Regions from separate parts of the Homo sapiens genome. Here region 2 is linked to region 1. The links come from fine-mapping of genetic effects on gene expression. A gene starts in region 1. The other region holds a variant in brackets. All regions are shown on one strand. Distances are between the middles of the regions. Region 1 holds the start of ACP5 (acid phosphatase 5, tartrate resistant). Region 2 has its middle 28 kb from the start of ZNF627.

Region 1 (5,372 bases):
CACATAGGCAAAGCCACCCAGTGAGTCTTCAGTCCCATAGTGGAAGCGCAGATAGCCGTTGGGGACCTTGCGCTGGTGCCGCTTTGAGGGGTCCATGAAATTCCCAGCCCCACTCAGCACGTAGCCCACGCCATTCTCATCTTGCAGGTACTGAGGATGGAGGACAAGGGGTCAGTGGAGACCCAGCTTTGAGCAGAGCCCTGCCTAAGGTCCAGGGCTCGATCTGGCCCTAACCACAGAGTCACCTTGAGGTATGTAACCCCTCCTGGCTTCAATTTCCTGACTTTTAGGAGTGTATTAATCCTATTTCATAGGTAGAGCACTTAGTAAGAAATTGGTGGCCAGGTGTGGTGGCTCATGCCTGTAATCCCAGCACTTTGGGAGGCTGAGGGGGTGGATTGCTTGAGCCCAGGAATTTGAGACCAGCCTGGGCAACATAGTGAGACCTTGCCTCTACAAAAAAAATGCGCAAGGGCCAGGTGCAGTGGCTCATGCCTATAATCCCAGCACTTTGGGAGGCCGAGGCGGGCAGATCACTTGAGGTCAGAAGTTCGAGATCAGCCTGGCCAACATGGTGAAACCCCGTCTCTACTAAAATATAAAAATTAGCAAGGTTTGGTGGCCCATGCTTGTAATCCCAGCTACTTGGGAGGCTGAGACAGGAGAATTGCTTGAACCCAGGAGGCGGAGGTTGCAGTGAGTTGAGATCGTGCCACTGCACTCCCTCTCAAAAAAAAAAAAAAAAGCAAAAATTAGCTGCATGTGGTGGCCCATGCCTGTAGTGTCAGCTACTCTGGAGGCTGAAGTGGGAGGTTCACCTGAGCCCGGGAGATTGAAGCTGCAGTAAGCCCCGATTGCACCACTGCACTCCAGCCTGGGTGAAAAACAATGAAACCTTGTCTCCAAAAAAAAAAAAAAAAAAGAGCTTAAAAAAGAAAGAAAGAAAGAAATTGGCAATTCGAAGATATTATTCTGGCTTTGGAGTGTTTTCCTGGTTAGACAGCAAGATTTGAGGGACAGTCTAGACATTCTGAAGGCCACAGGAGACCCTCAAACAGCAGGAGGACCCCAGCCATGTGGACATCAGCTGGGATGGGGACCCCCCTCACCCAGCTCCCACCCCACCCACAGGGCCCTCACCTGCAGATTGTGATCGTGGCCGCACAGGTAGGCAGTGACCCCGTATGTGGCCAGCAGTGGCCGTAGCTGCTTGACCAGGCAGTGGGTAGGCCCGTGCTCGGCTATGGACCACACGGGGTAGTGGCCAGCCACCAGCACGTAGTCCTCCCTGGCCGCCGCCAGCTGTTTCTTGAGCCAGGACAGCTGTGTGCGGGCCAGCTTCACGTCTCGGGGCCTCTCAGGCTGCTGGCTGAGGAAGTCATCTGAGTTGCCACATAGTGTCACTGTGTCCAGCATAAAAATGGCCACAGACACATTGGTCTGTGGGATCTTGAAGTGCAGGCGGTAGAAAGGGCTGGGGAAGTTCCTGTGGAGGGGATAGAGGTCGTGGGTGCACATCTTGGGCGCAGAAGTCCCAGGGTCAGCTCAAGCCACAGGGCCCCTGTGTCCCTGCTATGTGAGGATCTCGGAAGGCAGGGCTGAGGGTGGCTCACCAGCGCTTGGAGATCTTAGAGTATGCAATCTGGGCAGAGACATTGCCAAGGTGGTCATGGTTTCCGGCTAGCACGTACCAGGGCACTTTGCGAAGGGAGCGGTCAGAGAATACGTCCTCAAAGGTCTCCTGTAGCAAACAGATAGGGCAGGCCTCTTCCCTGGGGTCAGTGGCTATGCCGATCCTCCCACCAAGTCAGGATAAGGGAGACACTGAATGCTCCCGGCGCCCAAAGGTGCCCCATCACCTTCCCTCTGCCCTCACCAAAGGAAGGTCACTAGGTAAGGCGGCTTCTCCCCACTGCCCGCCCCCACCTCCTGCCCCACTCTGTTGGGCACAGACCTGGAACCTCTTGTCATTGATGTCTTGCACACCAGTGAAGTAAAAATTGTCCCCTAGAGACAGGATGAAGTCTGCACCCAGGATCTGCACAGTCCGAGCGATCTCCTTGGCATTGGCCATTTCCCGGGCCGTGTGGAATGGGGCATTGGGGACCCCTCCCCAGTCACCCACGGCTACAAAGCGCAGGGCAGGGGTGGCACCATCAGCCAGGGAGGGTAGCAACAAGGCTTGCAGGATGAGCAGCGCCGTCCACATGTCCATCTGGGAGAAGAGAGACAAGCATAGGTGGCCCGGGCTGTGACAAGGGCAGGGAGGCCTTGAGACCCCCGCCTGCCCTGAGATAGAGGGAGACTGCTTGCTGCAGGCTGCCCCTGCGGGAACCCCTTGGTGCCCTAATTCTCAGGACACACAAGCTGCACAAGGCTGCACAAGCTGGCTTAGGGAAGGGGGGCGCGGTCTGTGAGAGGGCGAGCTGTACCAAGATGGCCCTGCAGGCCCATTTCACCCTCCTTCCACCTAGCCTGCCCAGCACTCACCCAGGGGGAGACACAGGCCAGTCACCGGAGGCTCTGAGAGGCTGGTGGGCTCTAGAGTAGAACTGCCGGTCCCTGAGCCTTTATTCCCTGAGGAGGAAGTGGATCATTAGTGAGGATGATGCAGTTTCTCCGAGGGCTGTCCCGGGAGCCCTCCCCTTGGGTCATGTGAGCCCTGGACTTCCCTGGAGCAGGACACGGGATTGGGGTGGGGGTGGGAGGATCTGGGCACACGTGTGCAGCAGCCTCGGCCCACACAGCCTCCGGGTGGACCTGCAGGGGCCTGTTTGTGCTGTAGGCTTGACACGTCCAGGTATCTCTGTGTGTCTGTGTATCTCAGTGTGAGTGTGTGTGTGTGTGCACACTTGAGAGGCTGTGGCTGTGATTACCCAAGACACATCTCCTGCACCTTCTTTCTCTGAGTAAGGGCTTACCTGTGTGTGTCTGGGTGTGTCTTGCTTCCTGCGTGCAGCTGAGCATGCCTACCTGGGCCTCGGCTCTGTACCTGATGGTGTTGCTGCAGACATGTATGCTGAGCCTGCGAGGCCTGTGTGGCTTGTCTGCGATGCACGCCTGTGTTCTCACGTGGCACTGGGTGGGAATCCCTATGGATGGAGTTTTGTGTGTGTCCATGTGTGTGTGCCTGGGTTGCATCTCTAGGATGGGTTGCGTGTCTGGTGTGGGAGCTGTGTTTGACAACATCTGGGTGGGGGACTCCGCGTGTGTCCCCGTCCTCCCCCTGCCCTCTCTCCATCCCACACATAAACACCAACGGGCTTCCCTTTTCCAGGAAGTCCTGCCCACACCCTCCCCTCCCCCCAGACTCCCATTCCTGCAGGAGGAACCAGGCAGGAGGCAGCTAGCTGGTGATAGCGCGCGTGACCACAGACCTCTGACCCTCATAGTCTCAGCAGCTGTCTGCAGGCCCTCCACGGGACCGCAGCCTGGGAGGGCAGGAGGCCCTGCACCTGCGGCCGGTCTGACCTGCTCCTCACCTCCCTGCCTGCCTCCTCCGTGCTGGGCGCCGCCGCGACACGTCCCGCGGACATTCAGGAGTCCCTTCAGTCCCTGCGAGCGCGGACCCGGGAGAGAGCTCTCATTCAACGCTGAGGCCACTGGCTCACAGATCTCCCCGGGTCACCCTGCGAAGTGCTTGGTCCCCCCCATTCCCAGCCCTGCAGCAGCAACAAACGGGAAGGAAGTGGGTGACGAGGACAGGCAGAGACCCCTCCCACGGGGCCGCCCGCATCTCACCTGCCGTCGCGGGGCGGGCGTTGCGGCCGGTGCCCAGCTGCAGATCCGCAGGCGATCGCACTCCTGGCGGCCCCAGCTTTAAGCAGGCAGCGGCCGATCCGCCCTGCTCGAGGGCTCAGGGCTGACCCAGGTGAGCCCCGGCGGGGAGGGCGGGCGCCTCGGCCTCCCCGCCCCGGAACCCTGCACCGCCCAGAGCCGCCACGCCTCCCGGCTGTAGGCTCCGCATCTGTAAAATGGGCCGATGAACCCCAAGGGTCGGCTCAGACCCACGGACTGCAGCTGCAGCTGGGCTAGAAGGGGTGGCCAGGGGAGCCGATTTCATCCTTTTCCTTCCTCCACGCCAACCAGGAGCCTCCATCTGCCTGGGACCCTTTGGGGGCACCCATGGGCCCACAGCCGCAGAACCACAGCACTGGGTGGGGTTTCAGCCCTGGGGCCAAGCTCTTGTGAGGTCTGTCATCATCTTCTCCTGTTGTTTTGTTTTTTTGTTTGTTTGTTTGTTTGGTTTTTTTTTTTTTGAGACAGAGTCTCGCTCTTTCACCCAGGCCGGACTGCAGTGGCGCGATCTCGGCTCACTGCAAGCTCTGCCTCCCGGGTTCTCGCCATTCTCCTGCCTCAGCACCCCCGAGTAGCTGGGACTACGGGCGCCGCCACCGCGCCCGGCTAATTTTTTGTATTTTTTAGTAGAGACGGGGTTTCACCGTGTTAGCCAGGATGGTTTCGATCTCCTGACCTCGTGATCCACCCACCTTGGCCTTCCAAAGTGCTGGGATTACAGGCGTGAGCCACCGCGCCCGGCCTGTTTTTGTTTTTTTTTTTTTTGAGACAGTTTTATTCTGGTTGCCCAGGCTGGAGTGCAGTGGCGCAATCTTGGCTCACGCAACCTCCGCCTCCCGGGTACAAGCGATTCTCCTGCCTCAGCCTCCCTAGTAGCTGTGATTACAGGCACGCACCACCACGCCCGGCTAATTTTGTATTTTTAGTAGAGACGGGGTTTCTCCATGTTGGCCAGGCTGGTCTCCAATGCCCGATCTCAGGTGATCTGCCCACCTCAGCCTCCCAAAGTTCTGCGATTACAGGCGTGAGTCACCATGCCTGGCCAGTCTCCTGTTTTTTTAAAAACTTATTATTTAGCCGGTGTGGTGTCTCACACCTGTAATCCTGGCACTTTGGGAGGCCGAGGTGAGCGGATCACTTGAGGTCAGGTGTTCCAGACCAGCCTGGGCAACATGGCAAAACCTTGTCTCTACTAAAAAGACAAAAATTAGCTGGAGGTGCTCTCTTGAACCCAGGAGGCAGAGGTTGCAGTGAACTGAGATCATGCCACTGCACTCCAACCCAGGAGGAGGAGGTTGCACTGAGCCAATATCATGCCACTACATTCCAGCCTGGGCGACAGAGCAAGACTCTGTCCCCCCCAAAAAAAAAACAGAAAAAAAAAAAAAGAAAGAAATCTGAAGCAATTATGACCAAATGTTAACATCTGTTTCTTCACGTGGTGGGTACAGGCGTGTTTTGGAAGCTTCTATGCTTCCTGTATTTTGAGATCACACAAAATTATGTTTATTATCTTATTGTGCTACATGATCTTTGTAGAAAAGTTGGTAAATTCTGGAATGCACGAAGAAAAA
Region 2 (5,372 bases), 48 kb after region 1:
GTTCATGCCATTCTCCTGCCTCAGCCTCCCAAGTAGCTGGGACTACAGGCGCCTGCAACCATGCCCAGCTATTTTTTTTGTATTTTTAGTGGAGACGGGGTTTCACTGTGTTAGCCAGGATGGTCTCGATCTCCTGACCTCGTGATCCTCCCGCTTGGGCCTCCCAAAGTGCTGGGATTACAGGCGTGAGCCACCGCGCCCGGCCTGCTAACTGACTTTTCTATATGTCCTGTGTTCAATTGCTCTTTTACCAACAGATGAAGTTCATCTAGCTTCTTTTGTGATAGGGGCCATTGATCCACCCACACAGGTTTGTCACTGAGCCATTCTAATGGTAAGGCAGTGGGCAAAGGAGAAATATCAAATATCAATGACCCCCCCGTCAGAAATCCTTGTGTCCTAGCCCTTTTCTATCTGTTTTTCCAGTTACTGATATCGGGTTAGGATTTCATTGTAGAAATTTCCCTAAACCTTTTTCACTCTGATATCCCATGTTCTTCAACATTTTAAATCCTGGATTATCAAAGTTTTCATTTGTAAGTCTCCTATCCCATGCTGTAAGTCTCGACCCCATAAATTGATGGCTATATTTGCAACATAAGGCTGCAAAGTCCAGAGCAAGCTTAAAGTTGTAAAAGTTCTTTAATAAATAAACAGAGTAACCTGATAGGACGGGCGCGGTGGCCCACGCCTGTAATCCCAGCACTTTGGGAGGCCGAGGCGAGCGGATCACGAGGTCAGGAGATCCAGACCATCCTGGCTAACACAGCGAAACCCCGTCTCTACTAAAAATACAAAAAATTAGCCGGGCGCGGTGGCAGGTGCCTGTAGTCCCAGCTACTCGGGAGGCTGAGGCAGGAGAATGGCGTGAACCCGGGAGGCGGAGCTTGCAGTGAGTGGAGATCGCACCACTGCACTCCAGACTGAGCGACAGAGCGAGCCTCCGTCTCAAAAATAAATAAATAAATAAATAAACAGAGTAACCTTAGCTCTCTGAGTGCTAGTAAACTCAGATCGAGTGATTGAATTATGTGGTCTCTACTAGCCTGCTGCTTTTCCATGTTTACCAGACCCATCAGTAAACCGTGTTAAAGCCTTAGGTATGGGGGAGTGAAATACCGCTTCGAATTGCCTTTTACTTAAACGAATCCTGATGATATGAGGGTCATAACTTAGCATTTGGACTGCATTAATCATTAAGATTGCTAGCTGAAATAGTAATAAGTTTAAAAAGAAAATCTGAACGCGTCTCTAGAAGCAGAGACTTAAATGATATACTTTAACCATGTGCTTAAAACCACGGGCGGAATAGCTTAAATCTTGTAATTGAGTTTTTGGGCTGACCAAGTTTATGGACTTTAATCTGGCAAACAGTCTTGAAAACAGTGACTCACTGGCTGGGGAACTCAATTTAGGACTCTTTTAGCAAGTACAAATCACACTATCTGTAATCAGTGGGTAAGACAGTCATTCATGCATAAGTTTTCACTACACTTACAACTTTTCTTCACTTTCTGAGAAGGACACAACATTTTTACCTTCTAATTTGACAAATATCATTTAATTAGGTTTAAAGTTCTCCTTTAAAGGGTAATGTGTGGTTTTACATGCCTAGCTTTTAATTACTCATTAATGAATTCGTGGGCCCTCTGTAATCTCTTTCCCTTCAGAGGTTACTGTTTTACTTAAATTGAATTTGGAAAGCTACCTTAGGGGTAGGAGAGAGATAACAGTGGCCATTATTAGAAAAGAGGTTTTTCAAATTCTTACATTTTACTTAAATCTTAGCAGAGAATCATAGTCTGGGACGTACGTAACACATGAACTTTTGCTATGGGCTGCTCACAGAGCCAGAGGGCTGCGGTGCAGGTCCTTGGCGGCGGCCGCATTGTACTTGCTCAGGTTTTGCCTGTGTCTGCGCCGCTCCCTCCCTCCTTTGCCGGGGGTGGGGCATGCTGCCAGCCTGGGCGGACCTTGTGGGCTTGGTCGCTGCCAGCTTTTCTGCTGCTGAACCTTCTATTCCGCCCACCGCTTGCTTGGTCGCGCGGTTTCGGCTTCTAATGCCTTTTTTCTTTCTTTTTTTTTGAGACGGAGTTTTTGCTCTTGTTGCCCAGGCTGGAGTGCAATGGCGCGATCTCGGCTCACCGCAACCTCCGCCTTCCAAGTTCAAGCGATTCTCCTGCCTCAGCCTCCCGAGTAGCTGGGATTACAGGCACTTGCCACCACGCCCGGCTAATTTTGTATTTTTAGTAGAGACAGGGTTTCTCCATGTTGCTCAGGCTGGTTTCGAACTCCCGACCTCAGGTGATCTGCCCACCTCAGGTGATCTGCCCGCCTCAGCCTCCCAAAGTGCTGGGATTACAGGCATGAGCCACCTCGCCCGGCCTTTCTTATCTTTTTACAGACATACACCTGCTTGCCTTGCCGATTTTGCATTACTGAGCAGGTTAAGAGCTCTCCTTCTAATGCTGCCTGCTCAAGACAGGGACTGATAGCTGTAGCGTATCCTCTGTCCTTTTTCCTATCTATTGGAGGAGGAGGCTTAGGTAAGACCTCTGTTTCCTCTTTGTTATTTTTGGCCCAGTGATATTGGGGCTGAGGGAAGAGAAGGTGATAAGGCAGGTGACGTTTTCTCCTCCTTCCTCTTTTTAGGCTCTTCTGTGTGTAAACTGAGCCAGGACTGCTCTAATTAAAGCCCATAACGTTAAAGATTTTACTGGGACCTGATGCCTTTGCACCTGATGTTGTTCAAGATTTCTCCCCACTCATTCCCAGAGTTCTAAGCCTAGCGTTCCTTCTTCCGGGAACCATGGGCTTATGTACTCCATTATTGACCACACTAGTTTTTAATTCCTTCAACAACTTAAATTCTAGTGGGGTGTGTTCATGAATAAACTGCTGTGGATTATTTGAATCGGGCCTTACGGAAATAGGAAAAGTGCAAGGTCCTAAGGG[C/T]TCTCCAGCTATGGCAGCAGAGCATAAAGTTGTTTGTTTTGGGGTCTCTATTTCTGCTACTGAAGGAGGCAGTACAGATGTTTCTGCGATTGGAGGAGGCGGTATAGGCCAATTTTTATCCTCCCTCACCTGTTTTTTATTTTCAGTTGGCGCTGTGGGTGGGACAACAGATTCTTTCAGATTTTTAGACTCAGCCTGCTGTCCCGCAGAATAATAAGGAGCTAATGGCAGAAGTACAGTATGAACTAAACTCCAAGTGGAGAAAACTGAAGAATCAACTTTAAAACCTTTTTGATGAGCCTGTTTTAATCCTTCTCCTGCTCTGTCCCAATTTTCCGCATCAAGAGTGCCTGCCTGTGGAAACCATGGGTGATGCGTGAATAACCATTTGTGGCTTCTGCAGGAGGTTAGTTAGTGCCTGCGAATTAACCTGAGCTCCAGACTGTCTCAACAGAAACTTAAGCAAGTGCACATAATGTTTTTCTTCAGTAGACAAATTCTTCCCCTTGTTAACCTGATTCAGAAAACTTCCCCTTCCCAGTACTTCTTTAAAGCACTGCCCCCAGTACTTCTTTAGGGCACTGACCTTACATACGCTATCGGCAGACTCATCCCGGAGTCCCCGTGCGTCTTGTCAATTTCAGTTCCTCTACTCCAGCAGACCTTCTTCGTTCACGTCCTCATAGTCCCGTGTTTGGACTGCCGCCTGTTCGAGTGCCACTTATAGAGCTTCCGATCCTGTCGCTGTTTGGGGTGCCACTGTGTAACCTGCACGGACCTAGGGGGACTGAACAAAGGGGGGCGAACGTGGGAATAAAAGACAAGAGACAAAAGAGTATATTTGGAAGAAGGGATGGGGGCAGCACCTTGCCTCTAGTGGACAAGGGCCCCGAGCTTTACACAGTCCTCCGTATTTATTAGGCCAAAGGGATAGTGAGAAAAGAGGGAGTGATTGTCGGGTAATTGTCAGTTGGCCGTTTGGTTCTGTTTGGTTCACAGCAGGCTTGTGAGACTGCATCCTTTGGACAATAGGCACTAATTTTCTCAGTAGATAACTTCAAGGAGCCCGGTGCCAGGGAGTGATGTCCCTCAGCAAACCTTTTGGTGGCAGGGCAGTGTGAGTTTGCCCACAACCTGCATTCATGATAAACAGTTTGCTGTTTGATCATATAGACTCCTGCGGAATGCTGAGTTTGTCGTGTCCCAGCGGCCTTTGGCTCCCTGCACTGACCATCATGGAGAAACCCCGCCTCTACTAAAAATACAAAATTAGCCAGGTGTGGTTGCGCATACCTGTAATCCCCGCTACTTGGGAGGCTGAGACAGGAGAATCGCTTGAACTCTGGAGGTGGAGGTTGCGGTGAGCTGTGATCACGCCATTGCACTCCAGCCTGGGCAAAAGCGAAATTCTGTCTCCAAAAAAAAAAAAAAAAAAAAAAAAAAAAAAGAAAGAAAGAAAGAAAAGAAAAGAAAAAAGAAAAGCAACGCTGCAGTTTGTAAGTTTCAACAATTTAGAATTAAAAGTTATTTTGGCAATCTAGGACTCATTCTTCATTCTGGCTGCAGACAGAGCTATGGATAGGGAATGTCACACATATTTTTAAGGTTATGTTGTCTTTTATGTTAAATGGATAACATTTCCACTTTGCGTTTCCATATGCAATGGAAGGCCAAGGCAGCAGAATCCCTTGAGGCCAAGACTTCAAGACCAGCCGGGCAATATAGTCAGACTGTGTCTCTACAAAATATTTTTTAAATTGTTTATATAATTTATGAGATTCCAGTGTCATGCTGTCAGCTAATATTAGGAAATTAGTAGGTGTGACTATGGTATTCTGGTTATGAGAAATGCTTCAATTTATTTTATTTTATTTTTTTTTTGAGACGGAGTTTCGCTCTTGTTGCCCAGGCTGGAGTGCAGTGGTGTGATCTCAGCTCACTGCAACCTCCGCCTCCTGGGTTCAAACGATTCTCCTGCCACAGCCTCTCAAGTAGCTGGGATTACAGGCATGCGCCACCAGGCGCAGCTAATTTTTGTAGTTTTAGTAGAGACGGGTTTCACCGTGTTGGCCAGGATGATCTCCATCTCTTGACCTCGTGATCCGCTCGCCTCAGCTTCCCAAAGCGCTGGGATTACAGGCATGAGCCACCGCGCCCAGCCTTTTTTTTCTTTTCTTTTCTTTTTTTTTTTTTTTTTGAGACGGAGTCTTGCTCTGTCGCCCAGGCTGGAGTGCAGTGACGCGATATCCGCTTACTGCAAGCTCCGCCTCCCGGGTTCACGCCATTCTCCTGCCTCAGCATCCCGAGTAGCTGGGACTACAGGCGCCCGCCACCACGCCCGGCTAATTTTTTGTATTTTTAGTAGAGACGGGGTTTCACCGTGTTAGCCAGGATGGTCTCGATCTCCAGACCTCGTG

What was found. PIP is the estimated chance that this variant, and not a neighbour inherited with it, causes the effect. A credible set is the group of variants that fine-mapping cannot tell apart.
Region 2: its variant is the best candidate, but not a certain one, in a credible set for the expression of ACP5 in sun-exposed skin (GTEx, PIP 0.87).

Annotation. Positions count from the first base shown.
Region 1 is chr19:11,575,103-11,580,474 of GRCh38, forward strand. It overlaps ACP5 (acid phosphatase 5, tartrate resistant), which reads right to left and starts at 2,543. Exons shown (of 5, transcript NM_001611.5): 1 at 2,491-2,543; 2 at 1,955-2,215; 3 at 1,614-1,741; 4 at 1,141-1,486; 5 at 1-150. The coding sequence starts at 2,215. LOC124904638 (a long non-coding RNA gene) reads left to right here and starts at 147. Exons shown (of 2, transcript XR_007067140.1): 1 at 147-251. RefSeq lists enhancers at 2,029-2,641, 2,642-3,253, 2,723-2,862 and a silencer at 3,813-4,002.
Region 2 is chr19:11,622,866-11,628,237 of GRCh38, forward strand. No RefSeq gene overlaps it. Among named protein-coding and RNA genes, the nearest start is that of ZNF627, 28 kb to the left of the region's middle. RefSeq lists an enhancer at 773-1,273. The variant C/T (reference allele first, on the strand shown) is at 2,956.